Regions from separate parts of the Homo sapiens genome. Here all the other regions are reported to be linked to region 2. Evidence: microRNA targets listed by miRTarBase, many of them from high-throughput screens and not tested one by one. Region 2 holds a microRNA gene; each other region holds the end of a gene's coding sequence.

Region 1 (7,198 bases), not on the chromosome of region 2:
CCTTTCCTTTTAGATTGAACACATATCTAGTCTCATCAAACTCTCCAAGGTAAGGAGTCTTAAGGCCATCTGCAGGGAGGAATGGGACGGGGTGGCGAGGAGGGGTGGCACATGCACCTGATTGGCCTCATTGGAAAGCTCCCCAGCTTCTCAGTGGGGAATGGGCAGTGTGGACTAGAGTAGGAGTTGCATTGTTGCTATTTTGTTTTCAGTCCATTTGGCCTAAGACCCCTCCAACAAAGCTACTGTGTCAGGGTGATCTCTGACTAGTGGATACTGGTCCCTTTAATCATGTGCTTTGATTTTAGGCCGACGTGGAAAGGAAATTATCACAGATGATTCTTGACAAGAAATTTCATGGTAAGTAACAGTCACACAGGCAAGGGGGCTGGTGGTGGTGATGAGATGGTTGAAGAAGTTTATTTTCAAAGAAGATGTTCTATTTGTTTCCCCCGATGGTTCACCCTGGGGTCCTGGCCCCTCTTCCCTGTGATGAGAATGTGTAATAAGCATGTGTACATGGAATAGGGAGATGAATTCTATTTCCCTTCTTTTCTGGACACAGTGAGTCAACTAGGGAGTGGGCTGCTTCACAAACACTTTTGTGTCTAACCTCATCTTTTACCTGGGTTGCCCTTGTGTTTCTTGCAGGGATTTTGGACCAGGGGGAGGGTGTCCTGATTATTTTCGATGAACCCCCAGTAGATAAAACTTACGAAGCTGCTCTGGAAACAATTCAGAACATGAGCAAAGTAGTGGATTCCCTCTACAACAAAGCCAAGAAACTGACATAGGTGAGTGCTGGCTTCAGGACCCCAGGGCTGGGCAGCTCTGTCTTCTGCGTGTCGAGACTGAAAACCTCCTCCTGGTGTCCTCATGGCTTCCTGATTGACACTGCTCTGTCTTCTCTTGCAGAGTTGGATCTGTAGCGGTCCTTTGGAGAGTGTGTGTGGCGGGAGAGTGAAACCTTGGGGGAAAATGCTAGGAGATTCTTTTTTCTTTTTGTTCTACTTTTCGCTCGGAAAGTTTTTAAATCCTCATTTGGTGCATCTGTATTCCAGCCAATAGGTGTGCCAGTTTTCATGTAATCTTTACTGGCCCAACTTGGGAGTGGGGAAATTGCTTAAAAAAAAAGAAAAAGAAAAAAAAAAAGATTATTCTAAATAAAAGGAAAAAGGCTTACACTACCTAAAGCTGTGCTCTCTGCCTCCTGGGAGAGGGCCGCAAAGCCAGGCACCCCGCCAACCACTGGGGGTCCTAATCCACCTGCTGGGCATCACCTCTCCTCCTCCTCAGAATTGGGTGTTTGCTGACCATCAAAAGCAATGACTTTTTATTCTGTTTGTACTGAACCAAAACAAACAACTGTGTATAGACTGCTGTTTTCTTTTTTATTTGAAATGAGGCATTTTGGTGTTCTTTCCCCTACCATACGGCCTGTCTGCCCTTCCCTCCCCACATTGGCTCCAGCAGAGTAGCCGAAGGTCCTGCCGCCGCCGCCACCACCACCACCACTGCAGCAACAACAGCAGCAGCAGCAGCAGCGCCTGCATAGCTCCACTCTGACCTGTGAAGGAATGGGGATGAGGCCAGGAGCTAGTGTCTACCACGGCCACACAGGGAGCAGTGTGGGCCCTTAGCCCCCAAGGGGCCTGCTATGCATGTGGCTTTTTTTTTTTTTTTAAACACAGTAAACTAGATTAGTCGTCAGTGTTTTAATTGCCCCTCTTCTCCTCTCCTGCATTCCTCTCCTCTCTTCTTTCCTCTCTGTCCCTTCTCTTTCCCCTCTCAACCAGGAGACCATCATGTCTCTCTGCCTTCCTCCTCTCCCCTCCAGGGGAGTCAGGCTGTCTGTGAAAGCCATGAGCTTCTCTCCCTCTCCCACTCCTCCTCTCCTACTTTCAGATGGATTTATTCCTTTTTTAAACAATGAACATCGGAAATGAGACTGTGGGGTGTGGTTTCTCTCTCTCTTTTTTTTTTAATTTTCTTTGTTGGGTTTTTGAGCAACCTCATGTCCCCTTCCCAGGGAGCTTTTTAATTTACCTCTTAGAACTCAAGTGGATGGGAAGTAGAGCACTATGTGTCAGTATGCTTTGTTTTCTGACACGATTACACAGCGAGGCTTTAATGCCATTTGGGTAGGTGAGCTTCTGCACTTCTGTTGTGCTGAACTGTATTTTCTTCTCTCATCTCCTCTTTGTCTTTTTCTCTTTTCCTCTCCTTCCTGCCTTCTTCTGCTGGCCTCCTTTTCTCTTTCTTTACCTTCCTTGGATTATCCTTCCAGGTTTTCATAATAAATTTATATTTTGTAAAAGGATTTTGTTGTACCAGGTTTTGCATCCTCACTGAATCTGACTGGCTTTTATTTTCCTCTCCAAAATCAGGTTTTTGTTCTCAACATCTTTCCCCATCATGTCTAGTCACTGTTTTGGTTTTGGCACCATCAGTATCAAATGTACAAACGGTTCTTGCTAACCAACACCAGGTATATCTGATGTTCAGATGAGTTCCAATAAAAATAATTTTTTTTTTTTTCAAAAGGTGTCTTTTTCTTGAGTGCTGGAGGGCTTCCAAGCAAGTCCAGACAGCTCTGTGTGGCCCCACACTAGTCTAGCTCTCATCTGGCCAAAGCTGTTATCTCATTTGTGTAATGGGAGTCCTTAAGGTAAATTTGGGGTCCAAACTTGGAGGGCTTTGGGGGCAAGAAAGTTGGTGTGTGAGTTCTGAGGTTGGAAATGAGTTCAGGTGTCTTCTTCCAGGGCAGCATGGTCCAGTGAGCACATGTAAGTTTGGGCAGTAGATCCTCTGAGCCTACTTTCTCTTCTACTCAGTGAGGATGCTGCTTCCTTGGCAGGTGATTGTGATGTGAAGCTTAGTAAGTCATAGACGTGCAGGTGTCTGGAGAGTCCTGACATGCAGTTGTGGTTTCGTTTCCTTTTGGAATCTTCAAAGGCAGCGATTTTCATATTGCCTCACACCCTGGCGGGGGCGGGGGGCTCTGGGACCACTGGGGGACCTGCTAAATCCTCTTCAGTCTGAGCAGTTCAGCCATTGTCAGTTTTAGTATTGTGTCTCTGTATTTCACTTGCAGAAAGAGCTTTGCTTCTATAAAGGACTTTAAAAAGTACTCCAAAGAGATCTAGTTTTGGAGTAGAGGGGAGATGTTTTCTCAAACTTAGGGCAGTCCTGAGATGCTCAGGCAGTAGCCCTTTTCTCAGTTCCCTTTGCGGGTCTTGGTCAGATGATGCCCTCTAGACCCGTGCTGTCCAATATGTAGCCGCTAGCCATGTGCAGCTGTCAGGCCCTTGCAACGTGGCTGGTTCGAGCTGTGATACACTGCAAGTGTAAACACAAACCAGACTTCGAAGGCTTAGTATGATAACAAAAGAAAAGGAGTGTAAAATATGTCAATAACTTTTTTATATATGTGTTGAAATATTTTGGGTATTGGGTTAAATAAAATATATTATTAAAATTCACCTGTTTCCCTTTTACTTGTGTAATGTGGCTGCTAGAAAATATAAAGTTACCTATGTGGCTTCTATCTGGACAGCGCAGCTCTAGACCTCCAGGACCAGCAGTTGTGTCACTGCCTCCTCTCCCAGGCCTCTCATGACCTGAGTCCAGGCACAGCTGGGAAGGTCAGCTGGCCGGTGGGCTGGCCTGGGCCCGGCTCCCTCACCTCCCTTCTGGGCTCCAGCCTTCATGGTGCCAGGACTTTCTTGTGTGTTAATGAGACTCTACTGGAGTTGGGAGCAGAGGCTCTGGTCCCCTGCTGTGTGCTAGTTATGTAATCTGTGCTGCTCAGAAGGGCCACTAGATGCTGCTCTGTGATCCCTGAAAGAACAAAGCCGACTTCCTCAGGAGTAAGGGCTCAGGCCTGCTCTATTTGGAACCCTTCTTGGAAGCTGTAGCTGGCCCCCGCCTTGACCTCCCTCCCTCGGGATGCTATGGGAAGTGGGGCATGCAGGAAGAGTGGACTCTCCGGCAGTCCACGGGCAGCCCAGCCCAGCAGGGAAGCTAACAAGCAGGCTGGCCCTTCAGGCAGCTAGAGATAGGCAATAGGCTAAGTAGGCTGATTGATGGGGGTGGGATTTGGAAATCTTCCCTGCAGTTCTATGATGAAGGCAGCTAGGAAGAAAACAGCTCTGCCTCATTCAACTGGGTCTGCCTTCTGGGTCCTTGGTTCTGCCATTTCTGGCAGTTGACTGTCCTTTCTTCCTTGCTTCCAGTTGGAGCAGTGATAGGAACTGGGGGTGGGGAGGTGGTGGTGGGTTGAATGAAAAGAGGAGCTCTGTGGTGTCTGAAAACCAGCATAACAGGCATGGCCTGGGTGATAGGAGCTCCTGGAGACCCCTCCCTTAGTCGCAGCAGCAAGTGGGCTGCCAGTGCCATCCCATTCCTGCTGTGCTGCAACTGTGACTTTGCCTTGGGCAAGTGTGAGGAGGCTGGTGTTCTGCCGAGAGCTCTGTTTGAAGGTGCTAGGGAAAGGCTGGCTGGACAAAGGTGAGAAGACACAGGGTATGGCCTGGCTTGAAAAGGCCCATGCAGAGGCATGCTGCTGCAGAGTGGGAAGCAGGGTAGTGGGGTGAGCTTGGTCCGCCTCCCCGTGAATTGGAATAGCTAGAATTGAGATTGAGAGTTAAAGGTAACAGAGTGGGCCCAGGTTTTTCTAGGGGGTGGATTTTTCTTTTTTTAGCCGAAGTGTCACTCTGTCACCCAGGCTGGAATGCAGTGGCACAATCTCAGCTCACTGCAACCTCTGCCTCCCGGGTTCAAGCTATTCTCCTGCCTCAGCCTCCCGAGTAGCTGGGATTATAGGCACCCGCCACCACGCCCAGCTAATTTTTTTAGTAGAGACGGGTTTCACCATGTTGGCCAGGCTGGTCTCAAACTCCTGACCTCAGGTGATCCGCCCGCCTTGGCCTCTGAAACTGCTGGACACAGTGTGGCCATCACGCCTGGCCGGGGTGGATTATAGGCTTCAAAATTTGGACATATTTTGGGAAGTGGAAAACATTTAACCTTGGCTCAACACTAGAATCTGAAGGGGGGCACAGAGCCAACTCAGGAGCTAGAGGCTCCAAGTAAGGGCTGAGGAAAAGAGGCTGGGGTTCGGCTTTCCTTTGAGAAGGAAAAGGGACACTTGGTCAGGGTCTCGAAGCAAATCGTTTCTTCTGGCTTTTTTTTTTTTTTTTTTTTTTTTTTTGAGATGGAGTTTCGCTCTTGTTGCCCAGGCTGGAGTGCAATGGTGCAATCTCGGCCCACTGCAACCTCTGTCTCCCAGGTTCAAGCGATTCTCCTGCCTCAGCCTCCTGAGTAGCTGAGATTACAGGTGCCTGCCACCACGCCTGGCTAATTTTTTTTGTATTTTTAGTAGAGACGGGGTTTCACCATGTTGGCTAGGCTGGTCTCGAACTCCTGACCTCAGGTGATCCACCCGCCTCGGCCTCCCAAAATACTGGGATTACAAGCATGAGCCACTGCGTCGGCCTCTTCTGGCTTCTTACTGTTACATGCAGGAGGGTTGAGGACAGCTCCATTTGAAGAGCAGGTAGGCTTGTACACTGAGGAACATTCACAGGGAGGGGCGCACTGAGCTGGGGGCCTGCCTTCCTCTTCTGAGTTCCCATAACAGCTGTTGTGGATGTTCTGAAAGGCTGTGGACAAAGTAGCCCTCTGGGTACAGAGCAATGCATTTTCCACTGTATGCCTTGCCCCCCAAGGTTCCTAAAGCCTGGAATTCCTATTGACAGAAATCTGAGTGGCACATAAACAAAACCCAGCACTTTCTGCCTTGATTGCACCATTTTGAATGATGCCAGATTCCCTTTCTGTTCCCCCTAGGACAGTTGACAGGGCTGGTGAAAGCCTAGTCGGCTGGAGTGGTCAGGTAACTGGGTGGCATCCTCTCCTCTGGAGAGCCACTCCCTCATCTCTAGGTCCAGAGATAATCTGGATTAAGACAGGGCTTAAGTTTCCTGTTTCCCAGGTTTGTGGTCAGTTTTGACTCGATCTCCAGAAACAAGGTAAAATAGTAAATGAACAACAGCCTTTGTGAAGGATCTGGATTCACATCTGACAGGAACAGCTTTCAGAAACAGAATTTTACTCAATTTCGCTAGCATCAAGTTCTCAAATTATACATACTTAGAATTGAAAACGTTTAAGAGGGTCAGAAAGCTGGCCGGAGGGGCAGTTGCTTCAGCTTTAATATGACAAATAAGAGGGCGAGTGGGAACTTAGAGGTCATATTTGTGACGGGCTCAGGCTTGGCTACGGGCCACGCTTCTCTGGCTTGGATCTCTGAGGCCCACTTCGGCCGCGGTCATCTACCCATGATGAGGGAACGGAGGCCCCGGAGGGGTGGCCAGAACCGATTGGACTGTCCACTCGAGGTGCGCGTGGCACTCGGGAGGCCTCAGTAAAGGCGTCGCCTCTCCCCGCCCAGGGCCTTCTTCCCCGCGCTCCCTGGCTGCTTTCCACAGGGACGGGGATGTCAGGTGGAAGGAGGGAGCTCCGGACCCTGGCCTCGGCGGAGGGCTCCTCACCAGGCCAGGGCGGCAGCCTCAGAGAGGGCGGGCCGCGCGCTGCCAGGGCAGGGACTCGGCCGAGAGTGCCCCCGCGGCCGGCAGCTGCGGGCGCCGCGGCGGGAACAAAGGCAGCACGTGTCTGGGCGGGACGCGGGCGGGGTCGGCCCTCGGCTCCGCCCTGCTCGGCGCCCGCCCCGCGTCGGCAGAGTTGGGTTGCGCGGGCGCCGAGGACTCTCCGGCGGCCGGGCTGCTGTTGGGCGGCGGCGCGGAGCGGGCGGCGAGCTGTGCGGGAGGGGCGGCCCCGAGGGGCGGGGCGGGCCGACGCCGCGTGTCCCGCCGCAGCCGCGGAGTCCGGCTCCTAGATGGGGCCCGGCGCGTAGAGGTGCCTCCCGCTCGTTGCCGCGTCCTACCCGCACCGTGCGCGGCTCGAGCTGAGGACACCAACGGCCGCGACTCCCCGGCGAGACCAGGCCGGAGCGTGGACGGCGCGCGCGCCCCGCGAGGGAGGGCGCTGAGGCGCGCGCCGGAAGCGGGAGCGGGAGCGGGAGCGCGGCGGCGGCGGCGAAGGTGCGGGCGGCCGAGCGGGGGGCGGGGCTGCGGTGCCTGCAGAACCTTGGACAGAAGCTCCCTAGCTGCCGCCGCCGCCGCCGCCGCCGTCGCCG
Region 2 (7,198 bases):
GGGTGAAATACTTAACTTCTCTGAACTTTAACTGTAAAATAGAGTTTCAAGTTCCCTATTTTAAAAAGGAGGATAATAATAGTACCTTCTTTATAGACTTACTATAGTGATTAAATGAGGTCATATGTACAGCATATGCTCCATAATCTTTTCCTGCTTGGAAGACAGCCTGTCCATTGTGAGTGCTGGATAGGTGTTTGTTAGGTAATGAAATAAAGTACATCTCAAATGTTACTCACTGTCTTTATCCTCTCTTGTAGCCTGGAAGCTTTTCCCAGCTAAAGACAATATCTTCAAACCCCCATATTTAGTAAACTATTCCTGGTTTTGGTAGCAGTTATAAATATCTGCTCGTTAAAAAAAAAAAAAAGTGATGTTTTGCTACCAATGAGTCATTTAAAAATATTGGCCTGAAAGAACCAACATTGAAGATATTCATATTTTTTCATACTTTCCTAGGCTATTATTAGGTCTCAATTACATCATCAGTGCTTATGACACACCATAGGCACTTAATAAACAGGTGCCAAGTGAATAAAATCTAGTGAGCAAATAACTCTTTATCTCAAATTACTAAAATGAATAATATTTTACAGGGAATAATTCTGTTTCTACATTATCACGTTTACTAAAAATGTTTGTCAAGTAGATGTTATATACAATTTGAATAAAAGTTTTTAAACGTCTCTGGAAGACATGCTTATAAGGCCCTACATTAATTAACGTACCAGTCAATCAACAGGTGTCAATTAAACCCCTAGTAGTGCTCCTCAATGTGCTAATGGCGGAGTGTATTTCAAAAGAAGTATAAGATACATCCTCAGTGGATTTACAGACTAAATGGAACAAGGACATAGCTAACACTGTGGTTCCAAACCATTTGATCAGCACTCTGAGTGAAGTAGCTTGAGAGAGGTCAGAGCACCAGGAACTGGACTAGTTAAGGTCACGTCTTAGAAGAGGCTGATACATGGGAAGAATTCACACAGATGACACATGAGAAGAGAAGGCAGTCACACACTCATCCTGATACCTCACGGCTCATACTGCTTTGCTCATACTCAACACACTAAACTGAACTGAACTCCTCTGACTGCAAAACCAATAGCCAGGAAGCCAAACCTGCAATGTCCAGTGGCAGCCGGGGAGGCTCAGGAGACAGGATCAATTACAACAGGGCTTCTTACGGGAAAGTGGTCCCCACACTGGTGATTCAGCTCACATGCCCACAGACTGACTGGGCCAGCTTGGCTTCCATTGACTGCCATCCCTCGCCTGGCTCTCCTGACTGCACCCTGACCTATTCCCAATCCTTTGGTCTTTCTTTTTTGGATAGATTACTATGGATTTCTGTTGCTCCATTTGACTTAAACATTAGTTTCCAAATAAAATATAAGCCAATTCTCTGCACATTTTGAAGTGGCTCACTCAAGGCTGTAATGTTTAAAAATTGATATTCCTCAGAGGGTTTTGTATATTTTTTCCCCTACTTCAGAAATAATTAGGGGAGTTATATTAAACAGGTCTAAAAGAAGGTACCTTTCTTTTAGGCATTTTTTTTCCCTCTCATTCCCCAAACATTCCATTACTATTTTATCCCTTCTGAGCCTAGCCAGAAACTTGGCCTCCTTTGACTCCCAAACATACCAAGTTATTAAAAATACCCTTCAGCCAATATTAAGGAAGGGTCAGTAAAATGAACTCAGCATGGGGCTTAAGCAGAGCACAATGATTTCTTTGACTTAGTGAAGGAAATGAATGAGGATGATTTTGGACGGCCAGTTTCTTTCACTAATCTGTTGCTGGACTCTATCAGACATGAATGTTTCTCCCTGTCAGATTTCCTAATATTTCTCCATTGTGCTGTCACCGACATGAGAGTTAACTGGCATGAGAAGAGCTCATCTCACTCAAAAAAAAAGTCAACATTCCACAGAAAGTTATGGGACCTTCAGTTAGTATTAAGAGGAAAGTGAAATTAGAAGCTTAGCACTCACAAGATTTATACAGGAAAAGAAAGGCAGACACACTATTTTCAGGCTGCTGCTAATTAAGTCTTATTTGGATTGGAGCCTTCTGAAAGGAATCAACACATCAGGAATGGGTAAGCTAACAGGGAGGAGACAGCTGCTGAATATAATTCTGGAGAGAGCAGCCCTGCTGCTTAGATCTCAGATAACACAGAGGTTCAGTGTGTAATTGACTATGGAACAAGAAGAACATTGTTTTGTAAAAGAAGGTACCATTGCTGGGGTCCACAGAAACAGTTATGGTTCTTACCTCTGAAGGAGAACTGTGTTTAACTGTGGCTTTTAGATTTAACTTACTAAATTTGTATTTGCTGCAAAAGTAAACCACACTCAAGAGTAAAGCAAAATTCATCAGCAAGGCTATAATTTTGCAGAGAGAAATAAGAAGGGTGTATAATATTTAAATCGGAACTCAGCATCCCAGCAAAGAGCTTCTTAATCAAAACAAAAGAGAAAAAATCATTAAATACAGTAACCCACTGAGATTCACATGAAGGTATGTCCCACAACTTTCATAAATCCCGAATTTATGATACCACTATAATATACTATTACTCCACAAGAAGTAGATGTGAATAACACCCAAGGATTACTGTGTATGATACAGAAAACCAAAGAGAAGAAAAGCTGCATGGAGAGCAGCTGCTCTGACTGTGTGTGCAGTGCCTCATTCACCAACACACAATTCAAATTCAAGCCTCAGCAAAATAACTTGTCGTAAGCCATGATCCTCTATAAGGTCATCTTCAAATAGACGAAATAGTGACATTTAATTCATAAAGACAAGGTTCTACTCTCTTGCTGAGCAAGTAATCCAATCAACTGTGGTTTAGTTTCATCAACTTTGGAGAAAAGGCAATTTTCTTTCAAGATTTGACACCCTTCATACCCTCTGCCTATAATTCCAGATGGTAGGTGTAGGTGGTAGAAATGTTAGGTTGAGCAGAATGATAGTACCTAAAGAAGAATGAATAGTACCAGGAAATGCATGACTCATGGCATTCTAATTTTCTTGAAGTTCTTTTGTACATTTGCATCAAGATTTTCCACAAAATTCAATCCTGACTTTAATTGTAAATTAAAGAGTCCTTTATTGAATTTCTATTATTGCAGAGCAGTTACGCCACATGAGGTATAATAGAAGCTTATAATGTCATTGAGAGGCCAGGAAAAAACACATGTGCAGAGAGCAATATACCTGTGGCTGTCAGCCTGTAACATAGGTAACCTGTATCTGCAGTCCTAACTTGATTCTAAATCTCATAGTGCCTTCTCTGTTTTTCCCAAGGAGAAGGCACCATGGGATTTAGAACCAAGCTAGGGCTAGAGACATATGTTACAGGCTGTGAAAGTTCTACCAAAGTTCCTACTTTAAAGAATGAGCAAAAAGAGGCGGGGCATGGTGGCTCACACCTGCAATCTCAGCACTCTGGGAGGCCGAGGTGGGTGGATCACCTGAGATCAGGAGTTCAAGACCAGCCTGGCCAACATGGTGAAACCCCATCTCTACTAAAATTACAAAACTTAGCCAGGCATGGTGGAGGATGCCTGTAATCCTACCTATTCAGGAGGCTGAGGAAGGAGAATTGCTTGAACCCAGGAGGCGGAGGTTGCAGTGAGCCGAGATCGTACCACTGCACTCTAGCCTGGGTAACACAGTGAGACTCCATCTCAAAAAACATATAAAAATAAATACAGATAAAAAGAATGGGCAAAAAGAGATACTGGCTAAAGTCTTAAGCAATAAATTCATCAAAGGCAAAAAGACAGGTAAGTGTGTGTGGCTTTAAGGAACCATTAACTGAACCATTTTATTGGAGCAAAGGGCTCATTTAAAGGCATGAGTGAAAATGACAGATGGAGTAATGGTCATATTCCTTTCATTATTACACTTTAGACAACAAACCTTTGTGCTCCATTGCACTTAAATACCAGGAAAACACTTACCAAAGAACAATATTAACACATTTATGCAACCATATGATCTTTGCATACAGATCACAGCAATCAAGCTTCCAACCTTTTGTTGCATGCCTACTATGTGCCAGGAATTGTCCTAGCACTTCCCTTCCAATTCCCTATCCTATTTAATCGCTTCACATTCTACCACTCACACAAATTGTAGATTTATTTTACTCTCAGCCCACATAAAATACTCCAACCTAACAATTTTTAATTCTATCGGCATGATATTCTTTCATCCATCTAATGTTTCTACCTTAGATCAGAACCATTTCATATTTCAATTCCTACATTACCCCCTAGACTCCAGGCTTATAGTTTTATAAAATAAGATTGTAAAATAAAAACCCATCTTCTCCCTTCCTCCAGAAAAGGAGAGAAGTAAGTGTGTAATAGCTAACATTTATAATGATTTTACTATGCTGAGTGCTTTCTACATAAAGCTGTTTCATTTAATGGCTCAGCAACACTGTTGAAAAAGGAAGAACCTGGAGTATGGAAAGACTGAACAACTCCCACCAGGTTCATGTAATCAGTAATTGGTGGAGCTGGAATTTTTAATCAGGTCCAACTCAGAACCTAAATCTTTTAAGATCACAAGCTTAGTCATAATATTCAATTCAGTGCCTTTTCTTTGCCTATAAAATAAACCACATTTTTTGAAGTAGTGGCAATGTAACTCTTGAATTAGATTGTGTGGGTTCAGATTTCAAATGTATCATTTGCCACCTGTGCAAATTTGGACATCATAATTAATATCCCTAATCATGAATTTATCATCTATAAAATGGATAATATTAGTTTCTTTACACACCATTGTTATAAGGTTAGGAGATAATTCATGTAAAATGTATACAGGGCCTAATATAGTAAGTGCTTAACAAGAACTGATGAAGGAATAATGGTTAGGTACATAAATGAATGAGTGAATGAATTTCCTTTACATACATCTCTTTATATAAATATATCACTTATAGTAACAAGTGTAGGTAAGGACACCTACTCTATCCCTCATTGTTAGGGTTAAGAACTGCTTGCATTATTTTTTAGGAAAAGCCATTAAATGCCTTATACTAAAGAGAAAATAATGGGAGGCATTATCGTAATCATTATCATCATGATTTCATCAAAACTGATGAAAACCTATTACATGTAAGATATCAAGGTTAAAAAAGAGACATATGGCAAAGATGCCATCTTAAAACCTACATAGTAATGCAGTATGTGTAGATTGATCAGTGAATAATTAGATTGTACAACTGCAGTGGAACAAAAGTTCTACCATTCCTGTTGCTCATACATAGAAATGCACATGAGTCACCTACAAGCTTCCTGATTTGCTTTTGCTTTCTCCCCAGCTATTACCCAAACCTAAAAGTATGATTTTTACAAGTTAATAATTTTCTTTTAAGAGGTGTTGTCAAAGTTTCCTCTCAATCCTAATTTAAGGTAAGTATAAAATTATAATATGAAAATCCAAGAATTCACGTTTTAAAAGGAAAAAAGATAAACCAGTAGCAAAGAGCTGGTAACAGATGGCGACTTAGCAGTTAAAGCAGCATTTTTATTATATTCCAGATAGTAAAGTTTTTCTATGACTCTACTGTTCAAATGAACACCCACAGGTTCACCATCTAGAAGTGGTATGTCCCCTAACTTTAGAGAACAAGTTGATTCACAGAGTTCAATACCCTCAAGGTCATTTACTTTCTCTAAATGTCTACCCTCCCCACAACATGCCCTTTTTCCCCCTATTACAAATCAACCAATCTTACAGCTCGCAGAACAGAATTCACTGAATCTTAAAATAATACTATCATATTATTGCCAGGGAAGATGAACTGTGGCTTTTCTCCACTTTTGGACTCAATGCTTTGCATTTATTGTTTCCTTTTATGACCAGTCAGTCCTAGAAGCCAAGGTTAAAACAGAGGAATATCCTCCCAAAAGGAATGAAATAACCCCTTCACTGTTCACTCTGTTATATTTATTCAAGTTAAGAGATCTTAAATAAAGAGGGAAAGAATAGACAAAGGTAAAGCTAAAAAGCAGACTAAAGAAAACATGGAAAAGCAGAGGCGGCAATGTAACTAGGTTTAATTTCAGAGCAAATGAAAACAAAAATACAACATAAATGCCTACACTAGGAAAGAACATTCTCAAATAAGCAACATGACTTTACACCTCAAGGAACTAGAAAAAGAGGAAGAAACTAAACCTAAAATTATCAGAAGGAAGGAATTAATAAAGATTAGAGAAGTAAATCAAATAAGAAACAGACAACAATAAAAAAATCCATAAACAAGAGTTGATTTTTTGAAAGCATCAACAAAATCAACAAACTCAGCTAGGCTAATAAGAAAAAATGGAGAAGACTCAAATAAATAAAATCAGAAATCAAAGAGAAGATATTACAATGGATGCCTCAGAAATGAAAAGTATCATTAGGGACTATTGTGAACAATTATATGCTGACAAACTGGATAACCTAAAGGAAATAAATAAATTTCTACAAATATGCAACTTATTGAAGCTGAATCAAGAAGAAATAGGATAGTGTAGACAAACTGCACAAGGAAGACATTTATTTCAGTCCGTAATCAAAAGTGTCTCAAAAAAGAAAAGCTCAGGATGAGATGACTTCTCATCTGGTGAATTCTAATAGACAATCAAAGAAGAACTGATAACAATCCTTCTTTAACTCTTCCAAAAAAATAAAATAGGAGGAATCACTTCCAGACTCATCTTATGAGGCCAGGACCATCCTGATCAAAACCAGACAAAGATACAACAAGAAAAGGAAACTAAAAGCAAATATTCCTGATAAATACTGATGCAAAAATCCTCAATAAAATACTAGCAAACAGCATTCAACAGAACATTAAAAGGATCATACACCGTGACCAAGTGGTATTTATCCCTGGGGTGTAAAGATGGCTCAACATAAGGAAATCAATCAACGTGATACACCACACTAACAGAATGAAGGCCAAAAACAATATGATCATCTCAATAGATTCAGAAAAAGCATTTGACAAAGTTCATCATTCTTTCATGATAAAAACTCTCAACAAAATAGGTATAGAAGGAAATTGTTTAAACACAATACAGGCCATACATGAAAAGCCCACAGCTAACATAATAATCATTGAGGAAAACTGAAAGTTTTTCTTTAATTTCTGGTATAAGATATGGATGTCCATTCT
Region 3 (7,169 bases), not on the chromosome of region 2:
GCTTCAATGGCTATAGAGAGAACCCAAATCTCCAGGAGGACTCTCTGATGAAGACCCAGGCGGAGCTGCTGCTGGAGCGTCTGCAGGAGGTGGGGAAGGCCGAAGCGGAGCGTCCCGCCAGGTTTCTCAGCAGCCTGTGGGAGCGCTTGCCTCAGAACAACTTCCTGAAGGTGATAGCGGTGGCGCTGTTGCAGCCGCCTTTGTCTCGTCGGCCCCAAGAAGAGTTGGAACCCGGCATCCACAAATCACCTGGAGAGGGGAGCCAAGTGCTAGTCCACTGGCTTCTGGGGAATTCGGAAGTCTTTGCTGCCTTTTGTCGCGCCCTCCCAGCCGGGCTTTTGACTTTAGTGACTAGCCGCCACCCAGCGCTGTCTCCTGTCTATCTGGGTCTGCTAACAGACTGGGGTCAACGTTTGCACTATGACCTTCAGAAAGGCATTTGGGTTGGAACTGAGTCCCAAGATGTGCCCTGGGAGGAGTTGCACAATAGGTTTCAAAGCCTCTGTCAGGCCCCTCCACCTCTGAAAGATAAAGTTCTAACTGCCCTGGAGACCTGTAAAGCGCAGGATGGAGATTTTGAAGTACCTGGTCTTAGCATCTGGACAGACCTCTTATTAGCTCTTCGTAGTGGTGCATTTAGGAAAAGACAAGTTTTGGGTCTCAGCGCAGGCCTCAGTTCTGTATAGGCAATGCTGTGTTATTACTTGAATATAGAATATATAGTTTACAAAATGAAAATTACAATGTTCTCACCAAATATATGCCTTCGTGTGTCCAAAGTATAATTATTTTAGATGCTAATTTTGAATAGTTTATTAAACAGTTATAAATATGCAAAGTAGCTGGCATGTAGTGTCACGGATTTTCTGGATAGAGGAAGTGATTGGAAGTACTCCACTTAAAGCCATGGAATTAGCAATAGTTTGCTTTTTAATAGAAGGCCCATTTGTAAGAATGTTGAAAATATGTGTACCGTTTAAAGAAAAAGCAGCTTTAAAGTGACAAACAAAATACCCTTTTTCTTTTAGTATGGTTTATTTTTCTAGGTTTTCTGTCCCTCCCTCAGTAGTGAAGAGTTTTCTTTATTCCTGGCAGTGTCAGGAATATTGGTTTGAAAAGCTGTTGGCCTATCTGGAGTTTGGCCTTGTTAACCTAGTATTCTAACCAGTTAACCAGCCTTAGTATGCATTAAAATTGTATTGTTCAGAAAGTTTGTTTCTCATTTTCTGCAAATTCTTACTTTGAAAATGAATCACCACATAGTATGTCCCTTTAAAGCATTGACGCACAGACAAATGTTTAAAGCACAGTAAATACGAATATATGCCTTTGGATATTAAATTAATGCTTGATGATAAAAGAATCAAACTTTTTTTTTTTTGAGATGGAGTCTCGCTCTGTCACCCAGACTGGAGTGCAGTGGTGTGATCACTGCTCAGTGCAACCTCTGCCTCCCAGGATCAAGCAATTCTGACTCAGCCTCCCAAGTAGCTGGGATTACAGGCGCAGGCCACCATGCCCGGCTAATTTTTTGTATTTTTAGTAGAGACGGGGTTTCACCATGCTGGCCAGGCTGGTCTCAAACACCTGACCTTGTGATCCGTCCGCCTTGGCCTCCCAAAGTGCTGGGATTACAGGCGTGAGCCACCGCGCCTGGCCAAAACAACATTTTAAGTAGAAGATCCAGGTTTTAGTGCAGCTTCTGCCGTTAACTAGGTTAATAAATCACAACCTTGGGGCCACAGTTGCCTTATATGTAAATGAAGTGTTTAGAATAAAATAGTTAAATTTCCTTATTTTTCCCTTGGTGGCTGCCCTGTGGAAACAGTTTAGAATATTTGTTTTGTGTGTAGGAACCTAGTTGTGTTAGTTTACCTGGGTGTTCCACAGCTGATAGTGATTGCCTTGAATAAATTCAAGGGCAATTTATTCATTTTTACTAGGGAGATAGACCTTTACAGCAATCAAGATATTTTTGTCCATATCCAGGTTAGCTGGTAAGAGGATTTTTTTGGAGAAAAAAATGATATTTAGAAAGTTAATTTCTAATTCCGGAATGGAATAAAAACAATATGAGTAGTGTAATCTTGTAGAAAAAGAGTTGTATAATCTTGTAGAATTTCTCATTCTGTGGTACAACCCAGGGGTAAACTATTATTCCAGTAGTCAGTACACTTTTCTAGATAAATCTTGAGTGAAAACCAGCAATTTCTTTTTCCTTGTGGTCTGATTCCTTTTTCTAATCCATGAAGGCCATCTTGTAGATTACATTTATCATTAATGCAAGAATAAAGACAATTCCTCCTGTCAGTTGCGTGAATTTTTTTTAAGAAACAACCCAGTGAAGAGTTCTACCATAGCAAGGCCTAATGTTAGCTTTAGCTTTAGAAAATAACAGTTTGTGAACTTACTTCCCTATATTTGCAGCTGTATCTCACACTATGATTTACAATAAAATTGTAAAGATTGACAATAGACTTAAGAAATAACATTTTAAAATCTATTTTATACTTACCATTTATTATTCTGTTATTTTAGTCTCCATATGTTCATTACATACATAATCTTATTTAATCTTCACACCAAAACTGTATTCTTATGAATATACGCTAAAAGATTAAGTAAAATGCCCAAGGGTATAAACAAAAGCAACATGAAAGTGGAAGCCGTATCTGTCATTTATTTTATTTCCAGAAGCCTAGCACAGTGTCCAGCATATGGTAGATACTTGTAGTGTTTGAATAAATGAAACCAGCATTAGAGCTTTATATACTTTCTCTTAAGGACTTGAAAAGATTAGGAATCTACGCATACACTGAGAGAGAAAAAAGTGAGAGGAAGACTATAAAAATAGAATATTTGATAACTTCTTTATAAAATCTAGAGATATTTATTTTGTGTTTTTTCCCTATGTCCTATCAAATGAGGGAGCACTATTGAAATCTCCCATTGTAACATTGTTTCAGGAAATTTTATCAATTATCATCTTATGTATTTTGAGCAATTTTATGACATGCAAACAAATATAGAATCGTTATATCATCTTAATGAATTGAACCTTTTGTTTGTAGTGACTGCTTTTCTGCTTTAAAGTCTATTTTTTTCTATTATCATTGTCATATATTAACACTGTATGATTGGACTTTTTCCTGCTATCCTATTTTGTGCTTTCCACTTCCTTTGATTTCTCTATGTTTCACTTCTCAGTTCTTTAATTGACTAAATATTTGTTTGTCTTCTTATTTCATGATATTTTCCCCTCTACCAGTTAGGATGTTAATTCTATACCCATGCTTTTACTCTCAAAACTTACCATATTTAACTTAAAAATATCTAATATTAGTATCTTAACCCTCCTTCTTAATGATACTATGGACCTTAGGAAACTTTAACCCTGATCTCTTATCTATAAACTCTCAAGTTATTATCCAGTGTTTTGGTTTAACAATTTTGTTTCCCATGATTGTACCTCAAATTCCCTTGGAGAAGGTCTCTTGGTGGTAAACTCAGTTTTTATTTACTAAGATCGTTCCTTGTTGTTGTTGGAAGGTAGTTTTGCTGTGTTCCTGATTTCAGGTTAACATGTTAAAGATATTAACTCTTTTCTGGTTTTCATTGTTGATAAGAAAGCTATTCGTCTACTTGTGGTTATTTTGTAGAGTGATTTCTTCTTTCTGTTTATTTTAAGGTGGTCCCGATTTCAGTATCTATAGTCACTTCAGAATATCTAATTGTAAATTTCTGTTTTTCTTGCTTGTTTTATGTTGTGTTTCATTTATGTGTGGATATGTGTTTTTCTTCATTCTGAAAAATTTCCAGCCATTTTTCCCCAATATTTCCTTTCTTCCACTTTTTAAAAATCATTCCTGTCACTTTGATCGGGCCTATATTAGATCTTAGATCTTCTCACACTACTCATATCATGTAACCGCTCTGTCCCAGTTTCTATCTCCATATCATTCTATTTTGCTTTGGAAATTGCTGTTATATCCCAAGATCAATATTCCCCATCTTCATTTTAGCCTACCACCAGGTTTTAGCTGAAAATGGCCACCCAGATAGAGAGTAAATTTCCCAATTTCTCCTACAGTTACATGTGGCGATAATGCTAGGTTTTGGTTACTTTTATATAAGCAGAAGTGATATGTACAACTTAATATTCATTCCCTAGAAATCTGAAGTTATTTGCCCTTAATACTCTGCTTCTCCCTTTTAATGGGCTAGAAAGTTAATTTGCTGCTAGTTTGCTGCTACCTTGAATCATATGGCTGAAGATGACTGGGACAATTGCTGTAGACCCAAAGATGAAGTCACATGTACAGAATGGCAAAACAGAGCCCACCTACCTAGCTTGTCCTGTTAATATAGGAGAGGAATACACCTTTCTCTTATGAACACTGCTCGGGATGTCTTATGTCATCAACATTGCCTATAACCCTAAGTAGTATTGGTATAGTCTTGATAATTCTGTCTGATCTGAGGTTTAAGCTATCAATTGGTTTTAAATTTCAGTGATTTTTAAAAAGTCTTATTTGGCTTTTTTTCTCCTAATATGCCTGTTTACCTTTTAGTAATCTCATATGGCATGCTTTTTGTGATTCTGTTTTCATTTTTTATCATTGTTATTTTATCATCTATTAATTATTTCACAACCTGAAGTATTGAGGATCTAAACCTATTCTGTTGATTCTCACTCATGACGGCTTATTTCTTTACATCTTTTGTAATTTCCTATTGTGTGTTCACATGTGTTTGGTTATACTCTATGTAAACCTAGGAGTCTAAATAGGGTATTCTTTGCCCAATGAGGGCATTTTTAAATGCTTCTGCTGGAGAAATAGAGAACCCCCCCTAACCTAGGACTACTTTGGTTTATTGTAAGAGTTTTGGCTTGAGTTTTTCTACCTTATGTCTTGCTCAAAGCATATTTTCTGAATCTTACTTGCTTACTACTCAGATCTCCCTGTTTTGGAGAAACAGATATGAAGGGGTGGCTTGGAAATTTCCTTTATTTTCTGAAATCCCAACAAAACATTCAAAGAATGTTATATTGAGAATCTATTTGTTTTGTAGCAGCTGGGCCCTGTGGAATATCTAGTTATTGATTTGCTAAAAGTGGAAGTCCTCTTTCCCTTTAACCCACACCAACCTAACTTCTGCCATCAACACTTCTCTGAAATAAGTCTTGTCAAGCTCACCAATCACCTGCATGATGCTAAATTCAAAGGACACTGTATTAGTCCATTTTTACACTGCTATAAAGAACTTCCCAAGACAGGGTAATTTGTAAAGGAAAGAGGTTTAATTGACTTACAGTTCCACATGGCCTGGCAGGCCTCAGGAAATTTACAATCATGGCGGAAGGTGAAGAAGAAGCAAGTACCTTCCTTACAAGGCTGTAGGAGAGAGAGAGAGAGAGAGAGAGAGAGAAGGAGGAAGTGGCACACTTTTAACTCATCAGGTCTCACGAGAACTCACTATCATGAGAACTCCCTACCACAAGAACAGCATGGGGAAAACTGTCCCCACAATCTGATCACCTCCCACCAGGTCCCTCCCTCAACACGTGGGGATTACAATTCAAGATGAGATTTGGGTGGGGACACAGAGCCAAACCATATCAGACACTTTTCTGGTATTCAGTTACTTGACTCTCAGCAGCATTAAATACCATGGCCTATCCCCTCTTTTTTGAAACTGGGCTTGGAATTCTATTCTTATAACTTATATGATACCACTCTATTCTAGTTTCCTCTTACCTCTCCAGCAATGTTTTCAGAGTCTATTTTTCTGGCTCCTCTTCTCCTAATCATCCTTTAAATATTCACGATTTCTCAGTGTTTAATAACTCTGCTGCCTCTTTTGTGTAGTGCTCTCACCCCGTGTGATCTCATCCATTTCTGTGGCGTTAAATACTACCTATATGCTATGAATTTCACAATTTATATCTTTAGTCTGGAGGTCTCATCATAGCTTCAGGACCAATATCCCCACTTGAATGTCTCACAAGCCTCTCAAACCAAACATCCAAACCAACTCTAAATATCAGGAAGAGGGTGGAGCAAGATGGCCGAACAGAAACCAATCATTCCCTTGCCTCCCCAGCAAGGACACTGAGTTAACATATGTACACAGAAAAAACATCTTCATAGCAACCAAAAATCAGGTGAGAACTCATAGTATCTGGTATTAACTACATATTGCCAAAAGAGGTACTGAAGTGATTAAAAAACAGTCCTGAATCACAAATGCCACCCCTTCCTCACCCCAGGCAGCAGCAGCCTCTGAGCACTGGGGGAGGGAGAACACAGCAATTGTAAAGCAGTGAACTCAGTGCTGTCCTGTTACAGCAGAAAGGAAAACTGGACCACACTCATCCTTCCCACAGAGGGAGAATTTAAACCAGCCCTAGTGGGAACCTGAATTCCTGCAACTCTCACCACCATGGGCTAGAGGCTACGGCACTCTGTGTCTCCAAGTAAACTTGAAAGGCAATCTAGGCCATAAACTCTTAGGCAAGTCCTTGTGTTGAGTTAGGCCCATAGACAATGGACTGGAAGGGCACACGGCATACAGATAAACCAGCTGGGGCAGCCAAGGGAGTTCTGTCGTCACTCCTCCCCTAACCTCAGGTGGCACAGCTCATGACTCCAAAAGAGACCCTTCCCTTTCACTTGAGGAGAAGAGAGGGAAGAGTGGGGAGGACTTTGTTTTGCCTGTAGGATCCCAGCCCAGCCACAACAGAATAAGGGACTGGTCAGAGTAGTGAGGCCCCTGTTCCAGACACTACCTCCCAGGTGACATTTCTAGATACACTCTGGGCCAGAAGGGAATGGAACCTGCTGCCTTGAAGGAAAGGACCCACTACTGGCAGCATTTATCACCTGCTAACTGAAGAGCCCTTGGGCCCTGAATAACCAACAGTGATACCCAGGCACTATATCAAGGGCCTTGGTGAGCCTCTGAGATTTGCTGGCTTCAGGTGAGACTCTGTACATAACCAGCAATGGTGGCTAGGGGGCAAAAATCTTCTACTTAAGAAAAGCTGAGGGAAAAGTAAAGGGGACCTTTTTTCCCACATGTTGGGTACCAGCAAGGGGAGGAAGGGACTAAGTGTGATCCTGAGGTCTTTGATTCTAGGACTTGACTCTTGGATGAATTTTTGGACC

What was found. The annotated mature microRNA hsa-miR-605-3p reads AGAAGGCACUAUGAGAUUUAGA and lies in region 2 at 3,283-3,304, opposite strand. An mRNA with a match to its seed (bases 2 to 7 or 8) in the 3' UTR can be bound and repressed. Matches are read on the target gene's strand: a 7mer-m8 pairs with bases 2 to 8, a 7mer-A1 pairs with bases 2 to 7 and ends in A, and an 8mer does both.
Region 1: miRTarBase lists PSMD11 as a target of hsa-miR-605-3p. Seed matches in the 3' UTR shown: 7mer-m8 at 1,815-1,821 and 7mer-m8 at 2,229-2,235.
Region 3: the mRNA of FANCF is a reported target of hsa-miR-605-3p. Seed matches in the 3' UTR shown: 7mer-m8 at 762-768.

Annotation. Positions count from the first base shown.
Region 1 is chr17:32,479,838-32,487,035 of GRCh38, forward strand. It overlaps PSMD11 (proteasome 26S subunit, non-ATPase 11), which reads left to right. Exons shown (of 14, transcript NM_002815.4): 11 at 14-49; 12 at 309-360; 13 at 652-794; 14 at 916-3,482. The coding sequence ends at 794. It overlaps CDK5R1 (cyclin dependent kinase 5 regulatory subunit 1), which reads left to right and starts at 7,156. Exons shown (of 2, transcript NM_003885.3): 1 at 7,156-7,198. RefSeq lists an enhancer at 5,942-6,443 and silencers at 6,516-7,045, 7,156-7,198.
Region 2 is chr10:51,295,729-51,302,926 of GRCh38, reverse strand. MIR605 (microRNA 605) reads right to left here and starts at 3,354; the gene lies at 3,272-3,354. The region is part of intron 2 of PRKG1 (protein kinase cGMP-dependent 1); the gene reads right to left.
Region 3 is chr11:22,618,203-22,625,371 of GRCh38, reverse strand. FANCF (FA complementation group F) reads left to right here. Exons shown (of 1, transcript NM_022725.4): 1 at 1-2,839. The coding sequence ends at 686. Among named protein-coding and RNA genes, the nearest start is that of FANCF, 4.0 kb to the left of the region's middle. RefSeq lists enhancers at 1-59, 440-489, 500-659.